Linked DNA regions of Homo sapiens. The protein of the gene in region 4 interacts with the protein of the main gene of each other region in a pairwise test. Each region holds a gene or a part of one and is shown on either strand. Other genes may lie near its edges.

Region 1 (5,042 bases), on a different chromosome or scaffold from region 4:
GGAGAATGGTGTGAACCCAGGAGGTGGAGCTTGCAGTGAGCCGAGACCACGCCACTGCACTCCAGCCTGGGCGACGGAGCGAGACTCCATCTCAAAAAAAAAAAAAAATGCCTTTAAGTGGTTTTCCGCCCTTGGCAGGCCAGGTGTTCCTAGCCCTCATTCCCGTAAACCCACAACCTTCCAGCATGGGCATTAGGGCCTTTATGAACATGTTACAGTGCTGCAGAGATTTTGTTTATGGCCAGTTTTGGGGCCAGTTTATGGCCAGATTTGGGGGGCCTGCTCCCAACAATTGGTGATATTAGAGTTTATTAGATGATAAACTAACATTAGATAATAGCCCAGCTACTGGGCTAAGAAATGCACACGTGTTTTCTCTCTTATTACTCATAATAATAATACTATGAGATGTGGGTATTGTCCTGATTTCAAAAATGAGGAAACAAGGCCTCAGGGAGGTTATGCAACTCACTGAAGGTCATATACCACTGTGTAATAGCCAGGATAGAATGGGACGTGTTTGTGTAACTCTGTAGGCCGTATTTTTCTTTCTTTTTTTTTTAGACGGAGTTTTGCTCTTGTTGCCACCCAGGCTGGAGTGCAATGGCGCAATCTCAGCTCACCACAACCTCCGCCTCCTGGGTTCAAGCGATTATCCTGCCTCAGCCTCCCAAATACCTGGGATTACAGGCATGCGCCACCACGCCTGACTAATCTTTTGTAATTTTAGTAGAGACAGGGTTTCTCTTATCTTGGTCAGGCTGGTCTTGATTTCCCGACCTCAGGTGATCTGCCTGCCTCAGCCTCCCAAAGTGCTGGGATTACAGGCATGAGCTACCGCACCTGGTGTGGGCCATACTGTTAACCCTTTTATCTTTTCATGTAAGTACAACTATTATTACAGCTACAAACCACTGAGTAAGCAAAAATCAGAGGAAGAGCTCAAGGACAAGAACCAGCTGTTAGAAGCCGTCAACAAGCAGTTGCACCAGAAGTTGACTGAAACTCAGGTAAGAGACCCACCAGAGCTCTGTTACCAGCTGCCACTGGGCGATCCACATGGAATCCTGATGGGTGGCCCCTTGGATGAGCAAGCTTGTTAATGCACAGATGCCCAAGGGCAGAAAAAAAAAGCCAGGCTTTTGCTATGGCTGTCCAAGAGCAAGGGCAAGAAAGGGCAACCACCCCTAGGGAGTTGGACAATTCCTGATCTGTCTGTGCTGTGCTCCAATAGGGAGAGCTGAAGGACCTGACCCAGAAGGTAGAGCTGCTGGAGAAGTTTCGGGACAACTGTTTGGCAATTTTGGAGAGCAAGGGCCTTGATCCAGGTAAGAGACAGCACACAGCTAGCCTCCTTTGAAGGAATTGGTGCATGTGCCCCTTCCGGGGTTGATCTTGGCAGCATGGCATCAGCTGGCCCAGTATGTGCAGGGGTTACTTTCATAAAGCCCTAAAGATTTTGGAAAGCTTCTGTTTGTTTTCATGTGATGTTGATTTTTGCCTGGCCAATAGGATTTCAGATGATTATAGAGAGAGGGTTATCTCTTTCTTACCTGAACACTTTATGCCATTCATTTAGTGCCAACAGGTATGACCTTGCAAATAGATGAGAAACACTTTGTTCCTTTCAAGGGAGAACATTTTCTGTCTCTTCCTATTTGGGAAAGTTACTAGTGTGCTTGAAAGGAACATTTTGTTTGAACATGCTCTTCCTTTCAAGCATACTAGTAATCCCAAATGGGAAGAGAAAGAAAATACTATTTCAAGCATTCTTAAACCTGGTTAATCATCAGAATTACAGTGACTAAAATATGACTACTATTCTGACCCTGTCCCCCAGAAAGCAGTATCTGTAGCAAAGAGAGCAGAAGAAGGAATTGCCCAAAGACTGTAAGAGGGCCTCAGACTGAGTCAAAGAGCCAGAGAATGCCCAGGAAAGGGGCCCAGGCCTTTTTGTATTAAGGAATACTGACTTTGAATGTTACTGGTTAATCTTTAGGTTACAGTTGAGGATATTCTTTTTTTTTTTTTGAGATGAAGTCTCATTCCATTGCCCAAGCTGAAGTGCAGAGGTGTGATTTCGGCTCACTGAAACCTCCTCCTCCTGGGTTCAAGTGATTCTCCTGCCTCAGCCTCCTGAGTAGCTGGGATTACAGGCGTGTACCACCACACCCAGCTAATTTTTGTATTTTTAGTAGAGATGGGGTTTTGCCATGTTGGTCAGGCTGGTCTCAAACTCCTGACCTCAAGTGATCTGCCTGTCTCGGCCTCCCAGAGTGCTGGGTTTACAGACATGAGTTACCATGCCCAGCCTAGGATATTCTTTATAGTCACCATAAATATATATGTTTTTAAATTTAAAATTGTTTATTTTTTTGAGATGGGATCTCGCTATGTTGCCCAGGCTGGCCTCCAACTCCTGGGCTCAAGCAATCCTCCCAAATAGCTGGGACTACAGGTGTGCACCACCACATCCGACACCATAAATATTTTGTATGATTTTAGTTTATTACATGCATGTGATATTACCGAAAGTAATAATTTTTTAAGGCCTGAAAGGCTCTTAAAAATAGCTTTGTGAATTGTGAACAAAACCAAAAAAAATCCAACCTATACATTTCCTTTGGACAAATTGTCCACTGACCTAAGGAGAAAGTATACCGAATTTTTGGCCATATCAAAACCTAGATTGAAAGGAGATAAAATACAGTTTTGCAGGGCAGATATGGGTGACCCTGCCAAGGTGAAAACTTAGGAGAAAGTCCAGGATGAGACACTTAAGAGAAATTCCCCTCATGAATATTTCTGTACTTGTCCACGGAGGGTTTTTATTTTCTTTTGTTTAGGGTGTGTAGTTCCCTAAGTGAGATTGACTTTGTTGTATCCATCAGCTTTAGGCAGTGAGACCCTGGCATCACGACAAGAATCCACTACTGATCACATGGACTCTATGGTGAGGGCATGGGTGTGAAAGGGCGCAAGGGCTGAGTGACTGTGGGGCTCTGTAAATCTAAGAAGGTCTCTGCTATATATTCCATAAACTCCAAGAAACAGCCTTTGATTATCTGTGATGCTAGAAAAGAGAAATGGGATGTGTACTCAAAATAGCATATTTTACTTGAAAGGTAGCTTTGTGCTTACAAATATAAGTGAGTCTGAATTGAAAATTTAAAACACATAATAGGTAAACCTGTAGAGAGAGCTTTCTCGTTCTTCTGTTCTATACTTTATCAAATTTCTCTCCTGACTCCTTTGTTGAGAACTGTGTGGAAAGGATGTTAGCCATCATCTAATGCAAGTCTGGTTTTATATGAAGATTTGTTTACTACATTGTGCTTTCCTCTTAGTTGCTGTTAGAAACTTTGCAAGAGGAGCTGAAGCTTTTTAACGAAACAGCCAAAAAGCAGATGGAGGAGTTACAGGTGAGAGGCAGACATCACCCTGACCATTTCCTACCATGATAGGTAGATTTATAGTGGGGTCTTTTCTGTTTTTCTATTTATTTTTAATAAACTTTCTAAATAATTTTAGATTTATAGGAAAGTTACAAAGATAATACAGAAAATTTACCCTGATAGTAACGTGTTTTTTTTTTTCCAACTTTTAAGTTCAGGGGTACACGTACAGGGTGTGTAGGCTTGTTACACAGGTAAACGTGTGCCATGGTGGTTAGCTGCACAGATCATCCCATCACCTAGGTATTGAGCCCAGCATCCATTAGCTATTCTTCTTGATGCACTTCCTCCTCCACCCCCAATAGTAACATCTTACATTATCCTGGTACATTTGTCAAAACTAAGAAATCAGCCAGGCATGGTGGCTCACGCCTATAATCCCAGCACTTTGGGAGGCTGAGGTGGAAGGATTACTTGAAGCCAGGAGTTTGAGACCAGCCTGGGAAACATAACAAGACCCCATCTCTACAAAATAAAATTTAGAAAATAGCCAGGCGTGGTGGTACATACCTGTAGTCCCAGCTGCTCAGGAGGCTGAGGCAAGAAGACCACTTGGGCCCAGGAGGGCAAGGAGATAAAGTCTCACTGTTGTCCCCCAGGCTGGAGTGCAATGGCGTGATCTCGGCTCACTGCAACCTCCGCCTCCCGGGTTCAAGCGATTTTCTTGCCTCAGTCTCCCAAGTAGCTGGGATTACAGGCATTTGCGACCATGACCGGCTAATTTTTATATTTTTAGTAGAGACAGGGTTTCACTGTGTTGGCCAGGCTGGTTTCGAACTCCTGACCTCAGGTGATCTGCCCGCCTAGGCTTCCCAAAGTGCTGAGATTGCAGGTGTGAGCCACTGCACCCGGCAGGAAAAAAATTTTTTAAAAAACAGACCAACATCAGTACATTACTATTAACTATATTCCAAGTCTTCATTTGGATTTTAGCAGTTTTTTCCACTAATTTTTTTTTTTCTGTTACCGAGGCTTCTTGCAAATGTTCACATCACCAAGGCATGAGGCAATGTGTAACACAGTAGGTTGCTCAGAGTTGGGAATTGAGAACTATATGTAATCCATTCTATGGAAACTTGATAACTCAAGGAGAAGACCTGTAGTAAGCACAGATTCTTTGGTCTGGACTGTTTCAGATTGCTTGGATGAATCATGGGATATTGCACCAAATGTAGAGGATTTCATCGTTCCAGTTTAGATACAGGAGTCTAGTCCCTCTCTACTACTAGAGGGACAATTCCTAAAACCAGTGCATAGAAATAAAATCTAAAATAGAAGATACAGTCTGTTGATACTCCAGTGGTCTTCCTTAGTGGAATAGGAGCATAATGTTCTGATGTGGGAATTGTGTTTCCTGTTAGTCAAGAGTTTTGTGTATGTGTTGTTTTCTTTTGGAATGTCTTTCCATGCAGGCCTTAAAGGTAAAGCTGGAGATGAAAGAGGAAAGAGTCCGATTCCTAGAACAGCAAACCTTATGTAACAATCAAGTAAATGATTTAACAACAGCCCTTAAGGAAATGGAGCAGCTATTAGAAATGTAAGAAGAAGCAAGTGGCCAGATGGCTCCCTCTTGGGCATAAAATCTCA
Region 2 (5,042 bases), on a different chromosome or scaffold from region 4:
CTCCCAGCACCTGGGACAGAGGAGAGAACAGACACACCAGGGAAGCAGCCTTGGAAAGGGGATGCAGACATGAGGCTTTTCAGGGCTTCAGATCTACATGACTGCACCCAATGGACAGGCTCTGTACAATCACTGCCCACAAGCCCAACAGGTAGCCACTCGAGACACACACACTGAGGGGACTTCGGGGCTGGCTGACTTGCTCAGATGCATTTTAACAAAAACCCCCATCACCATCCTGCTCACATTCCTACCGTCACCTCAAACATCTCTGCTTTTAGCTCCAGATTCTTCTCAACATAACTGAGTAACTAACCACAATGGATATGAAATACTGTTGAGTAGGTTAAAGTCCTTAATAAGTCAAGCGTCTTAGCATATTTTTGAAGTCGTATCTATAATCAAAGCCTGGAGCACCTGTTTGTTCAACACAGTTATCTTTCATCCAGAATTACAAAATATAGAAGCTGTCATTCTTGAGTTTCCCCATGGGTCCCTGGTATTGCCCACGTGGGAACAACAGGAAGGGTGGAGGTGAGGGCACAGCACTGTACTACAGCTGCAGGGCTGATCAAGGGAATCTCATGAGGTGCTTTTTATCATTTAATGTGCCAACAACAGGAGGACAACCATGTGCTTCTAGAACAGGGTGAAGGCCCTCCTCACGGGAGTGATCCCTAATCTGGCCCCAGCACCGTGAAAGGTGAATAGCTGTCAATATCTACTTTCACCTAAACCTAAGCTTTTAAAATTCTGACCAAGTGGTGAAAGGTGCCATCTAAAGTGCTCTCTGTTGCTCGCTGAGGAGCTAAGAACTCCTGCGGCTCACTCAGGACACAGGTGTCAGGAAACTAAAGGAGCAGGGCTCCTTTGCAGCCCAGGCCCTGTGCCGCAGCTCTGCCCAGCTCAGCGGTGTAGCTCCCAGAGTCATGGACTGCTCGCATCTGTTCTGGCCGGCTGGTGCCCACACTGGAGAGACTGGCAAGTATCTTGAGTGTCATCCCCAATGGCCCCAGGAAGGAAAATGGACTCTGTTCTTCACTTTCATTACTGTTGAGCTGCTGAATTCTCTTGCAAAAACCATCAACAGGCATTTACTAAGCAAATGCCCACAGGGAACCCAGCCTGAAAAGGGCCCTTCCAATTTCATATTTGACAGGCATGTGCAGAGGTAATGAAATTATTCAGCAGAGCATCAGATTCACTCAGAGGCTACCAAGCCAAGAAACTGAAAGCAGAAACACTGGATTCTCCCTGTTTGTTGAACCTTTCCCTCTAAAACCAACTTATTCAGAAACACATCCTTTAAAAAAACAAAAGGAAAAACCAAAGCGGTGAAACAATATCACTTACTGGTTGGAAGACATCACTCTGACATAGTCATTAGTCTTGCAGAGACCTAACACCAGGCAGCTTCACAAACACACAGCAAGTCTGCAGAGTTATATTGATCAGTAAGAGTAAACCCAAACTGCACTAAATACTCTCATGGCCAAGAGGAAAGCAGATGCTGTTTTCAGGACAATGTGATAGTGACAGCCTATTTCCTCATGTGCAGCACAATTTGCTATGTTTAGTGGCACTTAAGTATTACACAGTAAATACTGAAAAGACCCAGAATTTTTGGATGTGCAGAAGCAATATCACATTGTTTATACAAAAGGTGCTATGCTACGGGATTAGAATACCACTATTTGGGTGTAGAGACCACTTAAAATCTTCAACACGCTCCCACACGCGGCCTCTCCGCCGGCCTTTGCTCAGTCGGACCAGTCGTTCTCGTCGAACTCTGAGTCGTCGTCAGAGTCGCTGTACTCCACGGCAATGCGCCGGGACAGGATCGTGGCCACGTCATTCCCCACTGGCTCCCGCTTGGCCTCCTGCTCCCGCTGCTCCTGCACCTTTTTCAGTTGAATTCCTGCAGACACAACACGTGGTTCAGAATCACATCCTTTTGCTGGCTCCAAATTAAAGATAAACGAACAAATATGTCTATTGGACTTTTTTTTCTACTGACACTAAGGACAGAAAGTTTTAGAAATTTGAGGGGAGAAAAGCTCAGGGAATATTAAAAGTTTCATGAGAAAAAACATGCATTCAAAGTGAGAAGTTTTTTTGTAACAAAGTAATGTGTTAAAATATTAAAAATTCCTAATTTCAGTGTACCTGAACACCATTAGAGAAAACTGTGGAGCTGCACCATCCCAGACAGCAGCCACTAGGCACATATAGCCTTAAAAGCATGAACTGACATGTGGCTAGTGGCTACTCTCTGGGACGCTGCAGGCTGGAGCATTTCTATCACCACAGGACATCTACTAGGCAGCAACAGCATCCAGAGCCTTGGAAACAGTGTTCTATGCTACTCACTCTCAGCTAACCCAAGAAGTAACTGAGAAACCTTTATTTCAACAATTACTGTGGAAACAAACATAAAATACAATCATCTACTTTCTAGCTTAGTAACAAAGTAAGATATTTGATGATTTAATGTTTATCCATTTTTTTTTTTTTTTTTGAGATTGGGTCTCACTCTGTGACCCAGGCTGGAGTGCAGTGTTACGATCATGGCTCACTGCAGCCTCGACCTCCTGGGCTCAAGCAATCCTCCCACCTCAGCCTCCTGAGTAGCTGGAACCACCGGCGCACGCCACCATGCACGGTTAAATTTTGTATTTTCTTTTTTGTAGAGATAGAGTCTTGCAATGTTGCCCAAGATGGTATCCATTCATTTTTTAACTGTTTTGAAATAATTTCAGATTTACAGAACAGCTATGAGACCAGCAGAAAAACATTCCCATATACTTGGATTCCCCAACTGCTAACATCTGACCACATTTATTTCCCAATCTTCCCCTATCATCTTTACACAGACAGACACAGACACTTTTCTCTGGACCATTTGAGAGTGAATGGCATATAATGTCCCTTTACCCCTAAAATAGTTCATGTGTTACCGCCCCCGCCTCGCCCACCCAAAATATCAAAATCACAAAATTAGTTTGGATACACTACTACTATCTATCCTACAAATATTATTCAAATTTTGCAAAAAGACCCAATCTAATTGCAAATGGAAAAGATTATCCCCTGGTTCAGAATCCAGTGGAAATTATCCGTGACATTGGTTGTCAATTTTGTTAATGTCCTTTAATCTGGATAGTTCTTCACAGTCTTTGTGTTTTACAACCTTCTCGTTTTTGAAGAATATAGGAAGCTATTTTGCAGAATGTCTGTCGATTTGGGTGTATCAGATGTTTCCTCGAGATTAGATACAGATTATGTATCTACTCTTGGTAGACAGGGCTTATAAGGTGTTAAAAAAAAAAAAGGCAAATCCAACACCGTCCTACAATGACCCCGAACTTGATATTCATGAGCTAATATACCTCTAGGACTTTTTTATCTTGACAAAATAAAAGTGTGTCAATGATGTCCAGGTACACAGAGGACCCTGGGGTCTTTAGAAGGGTGCGTGGGCCACACTGTGGGCCTGGTTCATGGGCACACAAGAAAAACGCAGAGGCAGCAGCATCACAGCTCCTCTGAAGGACATCCCTGATGCTGAGCTGGCGGGCTGCAGCCAGGCTCCTTGCTTGGTCACTTCCAGATGAGATGACTAAACTGTGACCAAGTCTGTGCAGCTCCCCACAGGCGAGAAGCTCTTGGATATTCCCATAACATGTCAGGGACCCTCGACCAACCTGGGTTGGGACCTGGTTAAGAATCCATGGTGTGGGCTGGAGGTTCCCAGGGGCTCTCTGGGCAGCCCAAGACAGGCGAGGGCAGACTCCCCACCCAATTCCACCTGAGATGCTCTGTTTCCATGTGTTTTGTGGTCAGGGGGTCAACGCGGGACTTTCATCTGACAAAAGGGTTATGCTGTTGAATATTATAGATTCTGAAAAACCACTGGCTTAGGACATCAAGCAAATATGACAAGTCCAGCACAAACTCTTTTTTTTTTTTAAAGAAATCATTAATATGAGCTCACTTTCTTTCATTTATACTTTTCCCCTTAGAGCAGAATGCAGAGAAGAGATCCAATTAATTAATCGATCACTTCAGTTATTGGGTTTCTGGTTTCAAGGTAAGTAAAAACTTCCTAATTTCAATTCTTTTTTTTTTTTTGAGACGGGTCTCGCTCTGTCGCCTAGGCTGGAGTGCAGGGGCGTGACCACGGCTCACTGCAGCCTTGACCTCCCACACTCAAGCAATCCTCCCACCTCAGCCTCCTGAGTAGCTGGGACTACAGGCTCAGGCCAACATGCTCAGCTAATTTTTTTTTGCATTTTTTGTAGGGATAGAGTTTTGCCATGTTGCCCAGGCTGCTCTCAAACTCCTGGGCTCAAGCAATCCAACTGCCTTGGCCTCCCAAAGTGCTGGGATTACAGGCATGAGCCCACCGCGCCCGGCTGTTTCCCAATCTTTATCACAATTTGATTACCTTACACTGGACAAAAACACAACTACTATTCAAAACAAAACAAAAAAATCAAGTAAGACCCCTTTAACTCTATTTTAAAAAACGTAGTGAGTAGTCATTTGAAGACAAGGAGGCTGTAGCTGGCTGGAGACATGAAGAAACCTCTTGCTGAAAGGCAGGCTGTGTGTCTGGGGGCTCCACTTACCCATTCGAATAGCAGCGAGGAGGTCGCTTCGAGCATCACTGATTGGTGGCTGTGCAGGCTCTTGCCGCTTCGCCTCAGCTACTGGGGGGCCATGCATTGGGGAGGACGAAAGAGAAGACCCGGGACCAGGAGGGCCTGGCGGGGGAGGTGGTGGGCCCGGGGGTGGCGGGGCTGTGACCAGGAGCCCGGTGGAGGGTGGGTGAGGAGGAGCTGCGTGCGTGGAGCTGGCTGATGCAGGGAACGGGGGCTGCATGGGCATCTGGAGAGGGCTGACGAAGGCAGTTTGTGCTGAGGGAATCACAGGAGGAGGTGGCGGAGGAGGTGGTCCGGATGGGTTGTAATACTCAATTATCTGCGCTGGGAGCATCCTGAGAGAGATATGAGGCACATAGTCACCAAGGGAACAAGAGA
Region 3 (4,077 bases), on a different chromosome or scaffold from region 4:
AATCAACAGAAGAATCTGGCATGTGTGGTTCACCCTGTGGTGCTTCCTGAACTCTCTTTAAGCTCCTACAAAGTGTACTCCAGGTTGAATGACCCGGACTTGGAGAATTGTTCTTCTGGGAGGTGTGGCGGATCCCACTGTGAGAAAGAACCTGCAGGAAGGGGCCAAGGCTTCCTGAAAGGTACGTGAAAATTGTCTGTAATTAAGTGGTTGTTGGCCGGGCATGGTGGTTCATGCCTGTCATCCCAGCACTTTCAGAAGCTGAGGCGAGTGGATCACTTGAGCCCAGGAGTTTGAGACCAGCCTGGGCAACATGGCGAAAGCCCATCTCAAAAAAAAAAAAAAAAAAAAAATTAAAAAATAAAGTGGTGGTTAGGAGCACGTGGTTCCAGCGTCAGACTCCCTGACTTCCCACTTCTAAGAGCTATGATAACGAACATATTGTTTAGCTTCTATCTACCTTGGTTTCTTCATCTCTAAGATGAGTATCATGATAGTACCTATCTCACAGGGATTTGGTGAAGATTAAATTACTTAAGGTATGGAAAGCACCTAGAAGTACTTGGCACATAGAAAGCACTTAGTAAATAGCAGTTCTTAATATGAATTATCTATATGTTGGAGGTAAGGGTGACATGAAGGGAAGAAAATCAGGTTAGGACGACGGTGTGCAATGAAGGGAACCCCTGTAAACAGAATTCGTGGGTTATGAACAGCTCTAAATACACTGTTCTACACTAATTTTTCTGAATTATCTGTAACACTTCACTAAGCCTGAAATTACTACACAGTCTAGTATAAGGTAGGGGTGTTATGAAGAATAAAGGATGAAGACAGTAAAGGAAAGTGGGGCCTACCCTGCAGAAACTCTCCCCTTGCCCCAACAGTCTCCTTTCCATGGGGATGGCATCAGAGTTCCAGGAGAGAAGAGAGCAGGGCACATGTTGGGGCCAGGAGCATGCAGAGGCACCCATGAGAGGCACTCACGTACCTAGAAGAAGGCTGTCGTGGTCCCAGATTTGCTGGGGAGCACTGTTGGAAAAGGAAGGGATGGAGAGGGGAGCCCGGGTTACTTGGGAAACATTTTCTTCATACTTCTTCTCTATATCTACCTGCCTAGCCATGTGAGCTCACCAAGCACTTAAGAACAAACCCCAGTCCAGGATGAGTGTTCTGGTCTCCTCCTTCCAATAAAAAGTGATTATTGGCAGCTCTCACTTTAATGCCAGCTCACCAGGAAGTCAGCCCTAGTGAGGGCATGTGAGGACTATAGAAGGATTGGTGGTGTGGATTTCTTTTAAGATATTGCCCTTCACTCTCCTTCTCCACCATTCCCCCGATCCCCATTAGATAAGGGGTTTGTTAGTCAAACCATCAGGTAGAACATTTCAAAGGTCACAAGACAAAAGCAATTACCAGTACATTTTTGTTTCCAATTGCAGATTTATTTCCACACACACAAAAAAATCTATGTTGAAGTTACAGGATTGCCATGAATGCCACACACCTTTCAGACTAAGCAGAAAGCCCACAAGAAAAGCACAAAATGAATGCACTCAGCTGCCCCTGTCCCCCCCACCCTGGTGACTGGGGAAGGACAGGCAGAGCCATCTAACAGGGGAGCTGAGTCTTTGGGAGGATAGGAAAGCCCAGGGTCAAGGGAAAACAACACAGACACTACACAGGGGCTTTCAGTGAGACAGGGATAGATCACGCCGGTGGAAGGAAGGCCCTAGCGTCCCTGTTCTTGCCCAAGAATAGCACACCATTTGTGAGTTTGCCCACTGTGTTCCCAACATCAATGCACAGATACAATTCTACCAGCAAGATCACAGAAACATAGTAAGAGCAAAAGGCAAAGCAGTCTGGGATTATGGGTTGATTTTCAGCCCAAGACACAAAGCCAGCTCAGACTTCTGAATTTTTCCATCCTTGTTCACGTCGCAGTGACGCAGGAGAATCTCGCGGAACTTATCAAGGTCCACCCCGCTGATGCTGGGCTGAGGGCGACAAAAGTAACATGTTAACAGGCAAGCCAATGGTGTTCTCACCCTTTAACACCCTCTCTGATGCTCCCTAAGCTTAGGGTGTCCTGCCTTGAAGGAGACAGGCCACAGGGAGTGAGGGAATGAGTCTATCGCCTCATCCCACCAAATGCTGCCAAGGATAAGTTTTCTGCCAACAGCTTCATTTCTCAGCATGTCCCTTCAGGCCAAAAAACCTTTACTTCCACATCACTTCCCTGCAGTTCTTAGAAAAAGACTGCCTTATTAGCAACCATAGTAAAGATACTTTGCCGCAAAGTAGGCAATTATGATCATAAATTTCTGCCTTGCTGCACTGATGAGAGAAGACACATTTCATTATCTCCTTGTAGGAGATTTTTGTGCCTCTGGTTTAAAAAAAAATGGTTATACTGAATGTAAATTTAAAACATGTGGTTGAGCTAGGGATGTAATATTTACTCCAAGGGATATGTTAGGGGGCAAGAAAGAATGTTAGCTAGAAACGTGACACATGTTAGCTAGGAAAAGTTTTTTACTTCAAGCTCAAAGGCCTGCAAAAGTGAGGAATGCTTTAACAAATTGATTCTCCATAGGTTATTTCATGTAAGCTTCACAATAATGCTGGGAAGTAAATAATTCCACCTCTTTTACAAATTAGGAAACAGAGGTGCAGAGAAAGCTTAAGCTTCCTGCCAAGCTGGAAAGTTGTGGCAGCATTTTTGAGCCCAAGAATAGTCCAACAGTCCTCTGACAATTGGAGACAGTCCTCAATAGTCCTCTGATTCCAATTGAGTGCTCATTGCAAAATTTCATACCATTCTCATGGAGAAAAGGCTGGTCTAATGAAACTACATGTGTGCTGATGCATCTGTGAATAAACGTCAAAATCAAAGAGCCCATCCTTCAAAATGGATCTCACGTGGTTTACTGGCCCAAAATTTTTTTTTTTTTTTTTTTTTGAGACGAAGTCGCAGCCGTCCCTGCTGGAGTGCAGTGGCAGTGATCTCGGCTCACTGCAACTACCGTCTCCCGGGTTCAAGCGATTCTCCCATCTCAGCTTCCCGAGTGGCTGGGCTTACAGTCACCCGCCATCATGCCCGGCTAATTTTTGTATTTTAGTAGAGATAGGGTTTCATCCTGTTGGCCAGGCTGGTCTTAAACTCCTGACCCCTGGTGATCCGCCCACCTTGGCCTCCCAAAGTGCTAGGATTACAGGAGTGAGCCACCGTGCCCGGCCACTGGCCCTAAATTTAAAATAGATCCAAGTGGCCCTTTTTTGACTAGAGATGACAGCTTACTCAAGTACCCTGAAAACCAGCACCTTTTTCTTTTTAGGGCTTTCAGAGCTCACCCGAACCAACCAATCAGAACTCAGTTAAATTAACCAATCAGGACTCAGCTCTATTGACCAATCAGAACTTGGCTCCAATAACCAATCAGAACTAAGCAAGTTTGAATCCTTTATTTGCACAAACAGAACTAACTGGCAACATGGGTGGGCACTGACTTTGTAAAATCCAAACCCCCTTTTGTTCTCTGCACCCTGGTTTACACTGAAAAGTGTGTCCTCCATTTTCCCATTTTCTTTTCTTTTTTTTTTTTTTTTTTTTTGAGACAGAGTTTCAGTCTTGTCACCAAGCTGGAGTGCAGTGGTGCCATCTCAGCTCATTGCAACCTCCGCCTCCCAGGTTCAAGCAACTCTCCAGCCTCACCCTCCCAAGTAGCTGGGATTACAGGTGCCCACCACCACACCCGGCTAATTTTGTATTTTTTCAGTAGAGACAGGGTTTCACCATGTTGGCCAGGCTGATCTCAAACTCCTGACCTGAGATGACACACCTGCCTCGGCCTCCCAAAGTGCTGGGATTAGAGTCCTGAGCCATTGTGCCCAGTCCCGTTTTCAAACTATTAACGGGAATAAAGCCTTTCCACCAAATTCCTTTTCAGAAAACTTCTGTTCACAAATCTAAATTTAAAAGTCAATGTACAGAGAGAAAAACAAAAAACAAATTTAGTCAAATTTCCAAGCCCCTTGATTACTGGAGTAGTTTTATGAGTGAATAGAGAAGGC
Region 4 (5,792 bases):
GCAACCTCTGCCTTCTGTGCCCAGGCAATTCTCTTGCCTCCAGGCGATTCTCCTGCTTCAGCCTCCTGAGTAGCTGGGATTACAGGTGTGCGCCACCATTCCCAGCTAATTTTTGTATTTTTAGTAGAGATGGGGTTTTGCCATGTTGGCCAGGCTGGTCTCAAACTCCTGAGCTCAAGTGCTCTGCCTGCCCCGGCCTCCCGAAGTGCTGGGATTACAGGCATGAGCCACTGCACCCGGCTGCAACAAAACATTTTTATTGCCTGGGAAAAATTGTCTGAAAATTAGATGTTGGAGAAATTAATGTTTCCCATTTTATTGTTTAATATTTGCATTATAATTTAAGAGATGCTGGAACTTCCTTTTAGTATTTTAAATCCAAAGTCCTGACATTACTTTTTCCTCTTTTGACCCAAGATTTCATCCAGTGTCCCTTATTTTATTTTTAATTACCAATGTATGTATTTATGTAAGGAGACTTTGAAGGGTAGTAGAGTAAATTGCAAAGTGATCTCATGCAAAATCAGTGATCCATAACTTGAGTGCCCCAGGAAAGCAATAGTTAAAGGAACTCTGGGATCCATACATAAGTCAGTAGAGCAACATCATTTCAGGAAAAGAAAGGTTTTTAATTTTCACATCTTGATCAGTTCTTATTCTTTTAGTGACCAAGATCTCATCTACAATATGTCAATTGACTGTTTATCATTGTCATAAAGAATTTGGAAACCTAAGTAGAAATGAGAACTAATTTAATAAACACTAATTTCCCCATGTGCATCCTGTTCCCTGTCATATTTCCTTTCTTCCTCTTTTCATCCTCTTTACGAGGAAATTTTGGGAAAAGGCGGGAAATATGTGTTAATAAAATCCAGTCTGGTTTGTATTTTACAGTTCAAAGTAAATAATATAGAAAGGCTGTTGTGGTGGTCATTCCCTTCCCCCCACCTTTGTAAATGTTGAACTCTGAGGAAGGAAAGAGAAAAGAGATCAAGGTGAAAGTTGAGGGAGAAAGTGAGAACGGAAGATGAGATTAAAGTGTGTATTTTTGTATATAGATATACTTTAATTTCTGTATATTTGGTATATAGAAAGGGAAATGAGTTGTTATGGCTAGTATTGATCATCAGTGTGGGGGTTATAGATCCTAAATCTAGATTTGTAGTTCCTGTCTTTGAATATCTTTGGTTAGGGAGAGAAGGGAGAGGAGAATAATTAGTGCATTCATGAAGTACAGTTGGGAGACTTTAATATGATACTAAAAGAATTCCAACTCTTCTAAGAAGAGGTAGGGTCTGGGAAACATTGGCTTAAATGGTAGAGAACCTTTGTGCTCTTTGAGAATAAATGAACAAAATTGCATTAGCACAGGGAAATGAGGTTGGAGACTGAAAAATAACAATATTCACCAAAACCCTAATGGTGGAGAAGTGATACATTAGTAAAGACTGAAATTGGTAGCTGGGTTATGTTAAAACACATTTCCTATCTCTGATTACAAATTGTATCTCAACTGCTGGCAACTCTTTGAATTTATTGTGCCGAAACTTGCTTAATCATACAATACATACGCTCTTCTTTTTGTAGGCGGCACTCCCCCTATCGCACACTGGAGCCAGTGCGTCCTCCAGTGGTACCAAATGATTACGTACCTAGCCCAACCCGTAATATGGCTCCCTCGCAGCAGAGCCCTGTGAGGACAGCTTCTGTGAATCAAAGAAATCGAACTTACAGGTATTTTCTCTACCTCAGTGCAAAATGTGATGGTCATAGTACCATAATCTGTTCAGATTACTTCAGGTAAATCTCTCATTTTCCAAGCACTAAGTTCTTTTCCTCACTCTATTCTCCCAAACCTCATCTGATTTCACCTCTCTCTCCTCATGTTCTGATTCAACTTTGAGCAGTCAGGAAGTTGATAAAGAACAGACATCTCAAAGTGCAGACTTCTCTCCAAGTTTTAAGAGTTCAGTTGATCTGGAAAAAAAATTATGGACCAAATGTGGGAAATGTCAGGTTGTTTTTTGGTGGAACTTTACAGATGAAAAACTATACATAATAAAACATTAATATGGGATAGTACATCAGAGTATGATTATTAATTAAAATTACTCAAATCTGTTTAGGAAAATGTTTTTGTTTTATTATAAAAGAAGTTTCTTCAGATAGGCATTAAACTGGAATATAAAAAGGCAATATTTATTGTTTTAATGTGTTAAACCTCAACATTTATCACTTGTATTTATGGATAATTTTTTCAAAATGTGGTCAAAACAAGCTTATTGAACTCAGTTTTCCCCTCAACTTTATTAATAAGTAAATATATATATATATATACACACACACACACACACACACACACACACACACACATTTTTTTTTAACCTGTCACTGACTTGGAGCTCAAGGAAATTTTATTTTGAAGTGGTACGCTTTTGAATTACCTTTATTGTAGCTACATTCATCTCAGAAAATGTCGGGAAGTGCTGATGATCTCTTACTGTTTATAAATACTCATGTTTTGGTGGCTCTTATTTCTTTAGCAGCAGTGGGAGTAGTGGAGGGAGCCACCCAAGTAGTCGGAGCAGCAGTCGAGAGAACAGTGGAAGTGGTAGTGTGGGGGTTCCTATTGCTGTTCCTACTCCATCTCCTCCCAGTGTCTTTCCAGGTAAAACATTCATGGTGCCTCGTCTTCACTTTTCCTTTCTGAATTTGATTCAATTTGTGATTTAATTATGGTGGGCTTTCTTCGTAATCAGGATTTTTTTTCTTTAGGAATCATAAATATTGGGAAGTCTATATATTTGTTATTTGTAAGCAAGTGATTTGTAAGTGTTTGCTCACTTTGCACTTCTCTTTATGCCTTTGGTGATGTGGCTCAGTTGCTGCTTTGAGGTTTCAGATCACACTTTGTTATGAGTACAAGTTTAATTCCAGCTAGTGTTATGACAGTGCAGTCTTTGGACACAGTGGGAACTCAGTGTGAGAACCATATTAGTAACAAAGGATTGGGCAGATATAAAAAGTAGTTTTGACAGTTAAATTTAGTGGCTGTATTGGAATTTAGTAGTCTCTGAAAATACTACCCTCTTTTCTCTGAAACAGAAAAATCTGCTTATTTGATTCGAGGAGATACACACTTAAAACTTAGTTTTGAAAACGTGACACAAAATACATTAATAGAATGTTACATACTTAATTTACTTATAGTAACAAGTAGATAATGCCTTTTAAAAATCATAAAGATTTGTGTTTTAAAAAAAATTTTTAATCTGATAATATGGAATATGTCTATTTTCTGATTTGTGTAATTCAAAATGGAAAACTGTTGTTTTTTAGTGTATTATGTTAGTTTTGTATACTATATACAGAATGTTATGCTAAAAATAACAATACGAAGGGAACACTTTTCTTCTGGAGTAGTGCTTTCAATTGAAAAGGAATGTTTGTTTTTAATGAATTGAAAAAATCTGCACATTACCCTGAGCATCTTGAATTATTTGCTGCTTATATAGTAATCCTTTAGCATAAGTTTTATTCTTTTTTTCAACTCTGTTCTTTTGGTTAGTGTTAAGCACTGAATATCTAACATTAAATACTCTAATACCTTTTCTAATCCTGCCTCATGTGATTGCCTCATTAATGCTGCCTCTTACTCCTCTTTCCCCTCAGCCCCTGCTGGCTCTGCTGGCACTCCTCCCCTTCCTGCTACTTCTGCATCTGCCCCTGCTCCTCTTGTTCCTGCTACTGTCCCTTCCTCCACTGCCCCAGACGCTGCTGCTGGGGGTGCCCAGACCCTTGCTGATGGCTTCACTTCTCCAACTCCCCCTGTTGTTTCTTCCACTCCCCCTACAGGTAAGTATTTGCTTATTCATTGGCAGGCAGATGCAGTCATCTGGCTATTCTCTTACTTGCACCTCTGATTTTTGTTTGTTTTTGGTTTTGTTGTACTTCGTATTAAAAAAAAATAAGAATAATGTACTAACCAGAAAGTATGTGACCAAAGATTAGCATTTCCTGAGAAAATTGAGGTAAAGTTTCTCATACATTTTTCCAATAGGGTAGCATAAATTTGTGTTTTTTTATTGCTTGAATTTCATTTATTAGAGATTTTTAAGTTTAATATGGAGCTACCTTCTATACAGTTTTTGGAAATTATCATTAGAAATATTTTCATTATAGGTTAAGTGATTAACAAAAGTCTATTACAATAATTCTAAGGTATATTTTATAGGAAATATTTGATACAACAAATGGAAAGCCTCTGTAAGTCTATTTTTAACAGAATCTGTTGCTTATTATAGCAGCATTGGAAACTCATAGACAATGGACTTTTAAAGAATTTCAGGTTTATTTAAGTTGGCTGGTGTTTTAAAATTGCAATCTAAAATCTGTTTTGATTGGGGAGGAGATAGACTCAATTGCTACGAAATATATTTGTAGAGTTAATGATGCTGGCTAGTAACAGGTTCTTGTCTGCTATAAAATGTATGTGTTTGGACATATATCACTGTATTAGTCTGTTCTCACATTGCTATAAATACCTGAGACTGGGTAATTTATGCAGAAAAGAGGTTTAATTGGCTAACGGTTCTTCAGGCTGTACAGGAAGCATGATAGTGGCATCTGCTTGGCTTCTGGGGAGGCCTCAGGAAACTTACACTCATGGCCTAAGGCAGAGGGGAAGCACACTGGTCACGTGGCCAGAGTAGGAGCAAGAGGACAAGGCGGGAGGTGCTACACACTTTTAAACAACCAGATCTCATTATTGCAAGAACAGCTCCAAGGGGGATGGTGTTAAACCATGAGAAACCGCCCTTGTGATCCAGTCACCTCCCCCTAGGCCCCACCTCCAACATTGGGGATTACAATTCAACATGAGATTTGGGCAGGGACACAGATTCAAAGCATATCAATCACCGTAGTGTTCCACTTGCCAGTGAAGAACTTCATGGCATTTATATTCAGCTTTGCTGTTATACATGTTAAACATATATAAGATCTTTACATGTTTTAAAAGACACTTTTAGCCAAAATGGATTTTGGGTGATGTCTTGTGGGATTCCTTCTATATGACTTTTAAAGAAAAGCTTTCTGCAGTAGATAAATGTAAACATGGGGTGTTTTTTGATCCAGATACAACTGTTAGGCCAAACTAACTAGTTAAATATAGGAATCTCGTTATGCTCCTGCTTTGATAAAGAATGCATCAGAAAGGACAAATCACCCCCAACTGAGAGTCTATGTTTTAGTAATTAAATATTAATTGAATAACAGGTGCCTGGCTCAGTGTTCACTAAATAAACATTTGTTATGTGAGGGGATAATTAACTGTGGTTTTTAAAACAAAAAGCAAGGTAAATGTCTTATTAATAATTTATATCAGGATAGTCTGTTTTATACAGTACCTGAGTTACCAAGCAATTGTTTTTCTTTTTACCAAGGTATAACTTATGTACAGTAAAATTCACCCTTTATACCATATATGTTTGTGAGTTTTGGCAAAGGTGTACTGACATGTAATTGCCACCACAATCAAGTTACAGAACAGTCCTATCATCGCAAAAATTTCCTCCATGCCCCCTTTATAGTCAGTCCTTCCCTTCCACTCCCAGCTCCTGGTAAGCCCTTGATGTGTTTTTTTTCTCTAAAGTTGTGCCTTTTTAAGTATAACATAAATGAAAGCATATAGTATGTAGCTTTTTTGATCTGTTTTTTTTGGCCAGATGCATTTGAGAATTACCCATGTTGTTGCATGTTTAAGTATTTCATTACATTTTATTGCTTAGTAG

What was found. Proteins that work in one complex are often made in the same cells at the same time.
Region 1: the proteins of ABI2 (region 4) and KNSTRN interact in binary tests that used the Homo sapiens proteins (3 or more experiments, as listed by UniProt).
Region 2: the proteins of ABI2 (region 4) and WASF3 interact in binary tests that used the Homo sapiens proteins (3 or more experiments, as listed by UniProt).
Region 3: the proteins of ABI2 (region 4) and SCGN interact in binary tests that used the Homo sapiens proteins (3 or more experiments, as listed by UniProt).

Annotation. Positions count from the first base shown.
Region 1 is NC_000015.10:40,388,602-40,393,643, forward strand, and holds part of KNSTRN (small kinetochore-associated protein), read left to right. Parts: intron 1-904; coding exon 905-1,010; intron 1,011-1,234; coding exon 1,235-1,328; intron 1,329-2,891; coding exon 2,892-2,953; intron 2,954-3,347; coding exon 3,348-3,422; intron 3,423-4,591; coding exon of another isoform or gene 4,592-4,630; exon of another isoform or gene 4,631-4,867; coding exon 4,868-4,996; 3' UTR 4,997-5,042. UniProt on the Homo sapiens protein: Essential component of the mitotic spindle required for faithful chromosome segregation and progression into anaphase.
Region 2 is NC_000013.11:26,682,564-26,687,605, reverse strand, and holds part of WASF3 (actin-binding protein WASF3), read right to left. Parts: intron 5,000-5,042; coding exon 4,632-4,999; intron 4,091-4,631; exon of another isoform or gene 4,023-4,090; intron 1,919-4,022; coding exon 1,761-1,918; 3' UTR 1-1,760. UniProt on the Homo sapiens protein: Downstream effector molecules involved in the transmission of signals from tyrosine kinase receptors and small GTPases to the actin cytoskeleton. Plays a role in the regulation of cell morphology and cytoskeletal organization.
Region 3 is NC_000006.12:25,699,130-25,703,206, reverse strand, and holds the end of SCGN (secretagogin), read right to left. Parts: intron 2,001-4,077; coding exon 1,872-2,000; 3' UTR 1,424-1,871; downstream 1-1,423.
Region 4 is NC_000002.12:203,393,113-203,398,904, forward strand, and holds part of ABI2 (abl interactor 2), read left to right. Parts: intron 1-1,587; coding exon 1,588-1,734; intron 1,735-2,543; coding exon 2,544-2,668; intron 2,669-3,672; coding exon 3,673-3,855; intron 3,856-5,792. UniProt on the Homo sapiens protein: Regulator of actin cytoskeleton dynamics underlying cell motility and adhesion. Functions as a component of the WAVE complex, which activates actin nucleating machinery Arp2/3 to drive lamellipodia formation.